2 separate regions of the Homo sapiens genome follow, and region 2 is linked to region 1. Evidence: fine-mapped expression QTL. A gene starts in region 1. The other region holds a variant in brackets. All regions are shown on one strand. Distances are between the middles of the regions.

What was found. PIP is the estimated chance that this variant, and not a neighbour inherited with it, causes the effect.
Region 2: its variant is the best candidate, but not a certain one, in a credible set for the expression of CXCL12 in pancreas (GTEx, PIP 0.53).

What each region holds. Positions count from the first base shown.
Region 1 is chr10:44,383,307-44,387,306 of GRCh38, reverse strand. It overlaps CXCL12 (C-X-C motif chemokine ligand 12), which reads left to right and starts at 2,210. Exons shown (of 3, transcript NM_199168.4): 1 at 2,210-2,362. The coding sequence starts at 2,302. RefSeq lists a silencer at 472-681 and enhancers at 2,575-3,266, 3,267-3,960, 3,961-4,000.
Region 2 is chr10:44,338,651-44,343,163 of GRCh38, reverse strand. All of the region lies in intron 1 of LOC124902544 (a long non-coding RNA gene), which reads left to right. Among named protein-coding and RNA genes, the nearest start is that of CXCL12, 44 kb to the left of the region's middle. RefSeq lists an enhancer at 4,396-4,513. The variant G/A (reference allele first, on the strand shown) is at 2,649.

The DNA.
Region 1 (4,000 bases):
CATCTTCCCCTAGCATTTAATGGCCTTCTAAGTATTTTATGCGTAATTACTTATGCTTAGCGCCATGTGCTTCTAAACGTTTAGTGCCTTTTCTAAACTACTTCAAACATGTAGCCCAGGTCTAGCACATAGTGGGTGCTCAGTAAGTATTTAACGAACGACTAGCGGAAGGGATGGCCCCATGGGTGCCACAGTAGCTTCTGTTCTGGGGCCTCAGGGCGCCTGCGGGAGGGGCAGCGGCCAGGCCTGAATCCCTGGTTCGCCCTCGACTCAGCCCACGCGGGCCTTTCAGGCTTCTGGGACAGATCCTAGGTCCAGCTGCCCACCTGATTTTGTGGCAAAGAAAAAAAGAAGAAGAAGAAGCGAGAGGCGATGGCGTTTGCTTTGGCCAGATTTAAGGGCAAGCGAGGCTGCGCGCGGCTCCCGCAGGGTCGGATCTCCGAGCTCCAGGGCGCCCCTCCACCCGGGTGTAGATTTCCCGCGGACCCCTTCGCCCTCCCGGGTTTCATCAGCTGCGCAGGAATGGAGCTGGCCAGAGCTCTGGGAGCGGGGAGGGAGGCGCCGCCACCAGAGGGCGCCGGAGCCCCAGCGCTGCGGCCGGTGAGCGGCCAGGCTCCCCGGCCCAGCCCAGCAAAGGCCTGGGGACGCCCGACGGCTGCCTTCTTCACTGGACCTCACTGCCTTCAGTTCTTTAAGAGCAGGGCCAAGTCAGTGGGGTTCCCGGCTCCAAGCCCAGTGCCCAGGGTGGGTGGGTGGGTGGGTGGGTGGGTGGATGGATGGATGGATGGATGGATGGAGTGCCGGCCCACAGCCATCTAACGGCCAAAGTGGTTTTGGAAAAAAAATGCACAGAAGACACCTACTCCCACCAGCGGAGTTCCGGAGCCCTCGCAGCCTCCTGTTGACCGCTCCCGCCTAATGCAGCCGCTGACCGCCCACTCCCCGACGGCCAGGACTCCCCAGGGACAGGGACGTGTCCCCAGGGCAGGCCCCTGGATGGACGCGGCGACTGACCCCACTTCGCTGGACGCTGTGCTGGGAAGGACACAGAGAGGTGGCTGGGGCAGCCTGCGGTCACAAAGCGAGGCCCAAAGGGGCGCTCTCCTCACCCCCACGTCTCCTGGGTGCCGACCTGCACCCTCCCTTCGCCACCGGACTGGGGCCATCTGGGATGTCTCGGGGGTATCCGGAGGGCTAAGCACCGCCGAGGGACGGCTCCGTGGGAAGAGTTTTCTGGACCCAGAAGGCAGACGCCAGTAGTACTGTCCTAGGAGTCGGAGGTCGGGGTGGGGGAGTTCTCAGCTCTTTGGGTCGCACGGAGCTTTTCTTGGGTAAGGCAGTAAGTACTTAGGTTTAAAGGACTTACTTACAGCTACCATTTATTGAGTACTGTCTGCTTGTCAGACACGATGCAGAGAATTTCGCGGCGTGGGGCGGGTCTCATTGAATCTCCCGTCCCACTCCGCGGGGTGGGCCTGTGATTAGCTCATTTCACCATTGAGAGGTCGGAAGTACAAAGGCTACATTCGCTTTTACTGAGAGCCGCCGGCGCCTTCTGCTTTGTTTGTACAGGCGAGGAAACTGAGGCTCGGCTGGTGGCGCCGTGGGCTTGGAGTCCGAGCCACGCTGACTGCAAAGACGGGTCTCATTCCCGCAGATCGAGCTCTGCCGGCGGCTGCGCCGCAAGCCGGGCAGGTGGCGAGCTTGAGCCCCCACGCACAGAAAGCAGGACCCCCTCGGCTGCCTTGGGCCGCCACCGCCAGCAGGCCCTCCGCCCGGGACTAACTTGTTTGCTTTTCATTGGTTCTCATTCAGTTCCCGCCATCGAAAGGCCCCGTCCCGCAGCTTTCCACGCGCGCCCCACTTTACGCCTAAGGTCCTCAGTCTCTCCAGTGGGGCCCTGTCACAGGGACAATAAGCGGCCCTCCAGCCGGCGTCGCTCAGGCTGCGGACCTCACTGCAGACCGGGCCAGCGGTGCGGGGCCCAGCGGAGCCTGAGAAGGTCAAAGGCCGGAGCGCACTGCGCCTCGGGAGCACAGAGGGAGCGGAGGAGGGGCGAAGGGGATGGGTGGGGGGTGCCGCCGAGGGAGTCGCGCGTCAGAGACCCCGGCCACGGCCAGCACTCGGCTCCGGGCCCGCCCCTCACCGCGCGCCCCGCCCCGCCCCGCCTGGCTCTCCCCTCTAAAGCGCCCGGCGCGCGCCTCCCACCGCCGCACTTTCACTCTCCGTCAGCCGCATTGCCCGCTCGGCGTCCGGCCCCCGACCCGCGCTCGTCCGCCCGCCCGCCCGCCCGCCCGCGCCATGAACGCCAAGGTCGTGGTCGTGCTGGTCCTCGTGCTGACCGCGCTCTGCCTCAGCGACGGTAAGTGCGCTCGGCGGGGAGGCCCTGGCGAGGCTCTGGGCTTCGGCTCCCGCCCGGCGCAGAGCCGCGGCTCCTCTGCCTGCGCCCGCAGTTTGCGCCGCCCGACACAGTGGGGGTGGAGGCAGCTCGCTTAGCTGGGCGCTCTGGTGCGGTGTCGCGTTCAAAGCCCTACTTTTGCGCCGAGGGTTTGTGACCTGCAGAGAGCGACCGCCTGACCTCAAGCTGGCTGCAGAGCGAGGTCAGCCGGGACAACTGGGCAGGAACGCCCCAAGAGAGCGTTCGGGACTGGCGCGGGAAGGCGCGAGGGTGGGGAGCCGCGGACCCCAGACCCCTGCCTGCCCACCCTCCACCCACTGCCTTCCCGCTGCGGGCTCGGTTTCCACAGGCGAATGGGCTCCGAGGTCCTGCTGCGCACAGTGCTGGAGGTCGGGCGGTGCATGGCGAGAGCGCGCTTTGCAAAGTTCGCCTCATGCCGCGACTTGAGGCTGTGAGGTCCGATGCAGCCGCGCAGCCTCCGCTCCCTGCGAAGCCGATCCTCTCCCCACACCCTCGCGGGGCTCTTGGCCAGGCGCGGGCGGGCTGCGCGGCGCAGCTGTCGGGCTTGTGCCACCCGCCAGGCCGCGCTTCTGCACAGCTCCGCGGTCCGCAGCGACGCGGACCTGGGCGCGCGTCCAGCCGCTGTCTTCCTGTCTCTTCTCGGGTTCACCTGAGAGAGGCCCAGGGACCCTCCGAGCCTCACACGCCCCCTCCCCAGCTCCCCAAACACACCTGCAGACAGGCTCTTTTGTCACCAGCTGGCCAAGCGCTTTGCCCCAGAATGAGAGCTGCAGCAAAGTTCAATCTCCAAGGCCCTGGGCCACTGGGAACCGTGGTGTCCCGTTTCACTGGGAGAGGGCTTTTTTCTTTTCTTTCGCTGAAGAGAAACTCGCTGCGCTGTCACAGGACACCGATGCAAACCAAAATAAACTGTTGCCTCTGAACACACAAAACAAAACCCTGTGGCTCAGGCCGCTGAGCTTCCTTGGCTGTGAAGTTTCCTGCAAAGAGTTGAAGGACACTCTGAGTGCTCTTGCAGCCGCGGGCTGTGCAGGCCCAGCGCGCCTCGAGCCCTTGGCTGGGTTGGTGCAGACGTGGCCCCGGCGTCCTAGCTGGCTTGGACTGTGCGCTGGTGTGAGCAGGACCAGCGCAGCTGAGTCGGGCTGGAGAAGCTGGGCAGCCTGGGGTCGTGGCGGACTGCCTAAGTGTTAAGGACACAGACTGAAGGCAATTGGGAATGTTCGTCGTTGATGAAAAGTCCCTGAGGCTGTGTCTGCACACTGACCCCCCCCCCCCCCCGCAAGTCATGGGGCATGTTTCTAGTTTTTATTGCTGGATATTCTTCTGTTCCTGTAAGGTCTCTGGTTTGGGCAGTTATTGACTGATTGGTGGGATGAGCGCGGAGGTGTCACAGTGCGCCGCTCTGGGAAATGGTGCTGCCCCCTCCCCGGAGGGCTGGAGAGAGGATTGGAATGAGGAACCTCGGTCTTTGAGTTATGGGTGCAACTGACCTGGGGGAAGCACAGAGACGTGGGGTTCATCCCAGACTCCTCCTGGCCTGGGAAGGGTGACATGGCCCTCAGAGTTGCCCCATTGGCAGCC
Region 2 (4,513 bases), 44 kb after region 1:
AAACCAAGCCTGCCTTTGCCTGCTGTGTCCCGCCTTTCAGTCCGTGGATGTTTCTACATGTTAGAGGTGTGCCAAGGTTCTCATTTCCCAAATATTCGTTCCCAGAGAAGGACGCAGGTGAACCACGAGTTCTTCTGCATTCAGGATGTGGCGAGAAAGCCAGGTTTTCCTGCCCTATCCTCCCTCCCCTCAACAAAAGTGAGCCTTCCTCTTTTATACCAGTCTGGGCAGTGCAGAGTAGGAAACAAACAGCTCTGTTTCTCCCTCTCCTTCCTCAACAAATGTGTTTCCCTGCAAAGCAACTTCACTATTTGTGTGTGGGTTCTCAGTGCCCTCCATGGCAGCTGGCTGCAGGCCATCCCAGGGCTAACCCATAACATTCACAAGACAGCCCCATGGACAGAGAGAATCACTCATGAACTCCAGCAATTATGACGTTTCTTTCTTTTATTCTAATAGAGTAACTCTCAATGTATCTCCAGCTAAGTTATTTATCAAATAAAAAGTTCATATTCCATACCTAATTAGATTTCTTTGTAAGCTTCGACTGATCCATCCTATAGATCTGGTTTGTTGAGAATGCAATGACATATGAGAAGATGAAATGAAAGCAAGTTCATTGGGGGAGTTAATGCTTTAAAGTTGAGACTTCTTGGGACTGGTTCAGAGAAGGCTTCATTTCTGGGAAAGAAAAACAAAGAAAGATGAGATGGGAAGAAGCGAGAGGTCATATAATTTGGTTTAATGAGGACTGTTTGGGGAGCTGTGGCTTTTAGCCATGCCTGTAAAATTCTCCTTTGACTACATATGAGGGCTACATGAGAATTTTTCTGCTAAAGATTTAGTATTCCAGTTATGTATTACTGTGTATTGAACCATCCCAACATGTAGTGCCATAAACCCACCCCCATTTCATTGTGCTTGTGAATTCAGTGGGTCATGAGTCTGAACAGGATGAAAGGGGGTGGCCTCCCCTCCTCAGTCTCTAAGGCCTCAGCTGGAAAGACTTGAGTGGTCAGGCGTGATGCTGAGGGCTGGGGCTGAGCAGGGCCTTCTGCAGGTGCTGTCACTCAATGCCTGGGCTTGACAGCTGGGAGGCTGGGTCCTGTTGGAGTGCTGACCACAGTTCCTCCTCCTCACCTTTTTGCCTGGTTAGGCGGCTCATAGCATGGTCGCTGGATTCTAAAAGAGAGGGCCTGTGATGGAATATTTTATGTGTCACCTTGGGTAGGCCATAGCAGATATTTGGTCAAACACCAGCCTAGCTGTCACTGTGATGGCATTTTTAGATGATATGAGCATTTAAATCAGTATACTCAGAGTAAAGTCAATCATGCTTTATCATGTGGGGGGCCTCGCCCAGTCAGTTGAAGGTCATATAGCAAAAAGACTGAGGTACCCTGAGGAAGAGGGAATTCTGCCTCCCGACTGTGTTTGGGTTCAAGTTGCAGCACCAGCTGTTTCCTAGATCTGCAGCCTGACAGCCTGTTTTGCAGATGTTGTACTTGCTGGTATCCACAATTGTGGGAGTGGATTCCTTAAGGTAGATCTCTCTGTACACACACACACACACACACACACACACACACACACACACACACCCTATTAGTTCAGTTTAAGAAACAGTAATCGATAGGGGCCCAGGAGAGAGTCTCAAGAGAGATTATTAGAGGAGATGAAGGCTGAAGTGTCCAGGTCACGTCCCTAGGCTCTTTGGTGGAGCCCAGATTCGGGGGGAGGGGACATAGCCTACCTCTCCAGGGGAGGAATGTCAAGGAATGTGGAACCATTGTTTTCAGCCTCCACACCATGAAACTGCAGTGGCCCTTTGACAGCCAGGACCATACAGAGGGCAAGGGTTCCCAGTAATTGTCTAGGGAGCTGGGTGAAGAGCAGAGAGGAAGAGCACACCTGTGCTAAGAGCCCCAGCACCATTGCACAGCCTCTGAACACATCCTCTTAGGAGGAGCCCATTTGCACCTACATCTCCTTAGGACCAAGTCATCAAGGTGAACTACTGCCTCTGAGCTTTGGGAGAAACCTGTGGCACAGGCCATGGGATCTGAATATCTGGATGACACAGTAGGCAACTTGGAAGAGGGTGTAGAGGCAAAACCTAACATTTTGTGGATTAGGTTGTTGGGCGGCTGAACACATGGGCGACAAGGTCCTCCCTCTACTCCCAGTGCACCAGGTAGTACAATAAATTCTTTCATGGTCTCATTTAACCTTTGAAATAAGCATGTAGAGTAGTGTCTCAGGAATCTATTGTAGAACAAATCACTCTAACAGTCATTTCATCATGTACCCTCGTGGTCCTGGGGTAGAATAGGCTCGTCTGGGCTCTCCCTCAGCTGTGGTCAGAGGGCAATGAGGGCAGAAGTTCTCTCCAGGCTCACCCACTCACTGTGGATGTGCCATCTGCTGGGACCTCAGCTGGGACTGTCAGCTGGAAAGGCTGTGTGGGGTCTCCAGGTGGCTGCTTGGCTCCAAGCAAGAACATCCCAAGAGGGTCTAGCAGAAGCTGTGTAGCCTCTTATGACTTCACCTCAGAAACACAGAGTGTCACTTCCACGGCATTCCATTTTTTACCAGTGAGTCTCAAAGGCCAGCCCTCATTTGGGGGAAGGAGTATCAAAGAATTTGCA[G/A]ATGTGTCTTAAAACCATCACAGGCAGCATGAATTTCTCTCACTATATAGATGAGGAAACCAAAACCTGGGAGCCTGAGTTGACCGTGATGGTGCACACAGCTAGCAAGCAGCAGAAGTGAGACATGAAAACAGCTCAGCCAGGGTCCGAAGCCTGTGCATACAACCACCCTGCCACCCTGCGTCTCTGTAGCCAATATTTTAGCAGGGCATATACTACATAGATACATAGGAACAGAATTTGAGATTGAAAGGCACGAGAAAGAACTAATAAACTATTCCAAGAGCAGGCAAGGAATGGGCTTGTACCACTAACAGAGGTCAGAAAAGGCTTCCCATGGCAGGTGGACTTGGCAGAGTGGGTAAGATAAGGATGCGCAGAGAAGCTGGAGGGGGACAGGAAAATGTGGCAGGGTGGACGGGGAGCAGGTATTTTAGGCAGAGACACTGCACATGTGGAGGCAGGAACATACCTGGTAACCCTAATAACAGCCCAGTGTGCATACAGTGATTCACAAAAGAAGAAAATGAAGGAGATGTGGACTGGCACCTGGTATAAAAGTGCTTAAATGCCAGGTCGAGGCCTTTTGCTTTCATTTAAAGCTATGCTTCTCCAAGTGGTCCCTGGACCGGCAGCATCAGCATCACCTGGGAACTTGCAAGAAATGCACATTCTTAGCCCCACCCTAGACCTATGTTTTAACAAGTGCTCTAGGGGATTCTGATACAGCCTTTAGTTTGAGACCGTCTGCTCCTAGGTATGGGGGGCAGGAGAGGTGGGGACCCAGCAGTTTTGAGCGAGAGAGTGCAATAATCTGAGTTGCTCTTCAGCAGATCACCCTGGCTGGGGTGTGCTGGGCAGACTGAAGTAAGAGAGCAAACCTTTGCCCCAAGGAAGGGTAATGCAGGGCTGAACTAGCACAGGAAGAGAGGAGGAAGGCAGGAAGGAAGGGCCCAGCACTGGGGCCCTGCAGCCTTGGGACTTGGTGATGGTGAGGAGAGCAAGTTCTCCCTCACAGCGTCCCATGTGGACCTCACAGGTACAGCCAGCTACTTAGAATTTCTCTAAATATTTGAACCACATGGCCCAGGAATCTAGGTATAAACTCAGGACGCAGGGGTTGGGTTACAGGCTCAGTTTCCTATTACACAATCAAGCAACTCTCTGCATTTTGCCTCCGGGAAAGCATTGCTTGGTCAAGCATTTTCTTTCAGCCCTTCATGCTTCATTGCAAGGCCTTTTGGCTAGACTCAAGGACCACTGAATTTTCTAAACCACCTTTGCAAAATGGGTTTAAAAATATGATCTACCACATATGGTTGAAAATTAAATGAGATAATTCTTCACACTCAATACTTATTAACCACTTTTATTATCACCCTCATGATCATTATCATTATTACTCACTCATTCATTCATCCAAGCTATATTTGCTGTGCACCCACTATGTGCAATGCTCTGGAAACATAGTGGTGAATTATCATGGCCACTCCTCTGGGTCTCTCTCTCCTTCATTGCCAGTTTACCTGTGAGATGGACAAGAACATGGGTCTTAGAACCTCATAAATTGGGTTTGAGCTCTAAATTTTTTAAAACATTAACTTTATAATCTTAGAAAATTACATCTCTAGGGCTCTTAATTCACTTGCAAATGGGATTGAAAGACTTGTCTTGTGTCACACAATTGTGTGAGGATGAAATGAGAAAAGAGATGTGGAGGCATTTGGAGGATGGTACAGGCTGTGCACCCTCAGGAAGTGCCAGGATTCCTGCTTCTCACTTCCCCTCCCTCAATCCCATGTCCTCCCCTTGGCCCGTTCACTCCCAAAGTTTCCCACTCTCTCTGGTCTCTAGGCCCAATTCCA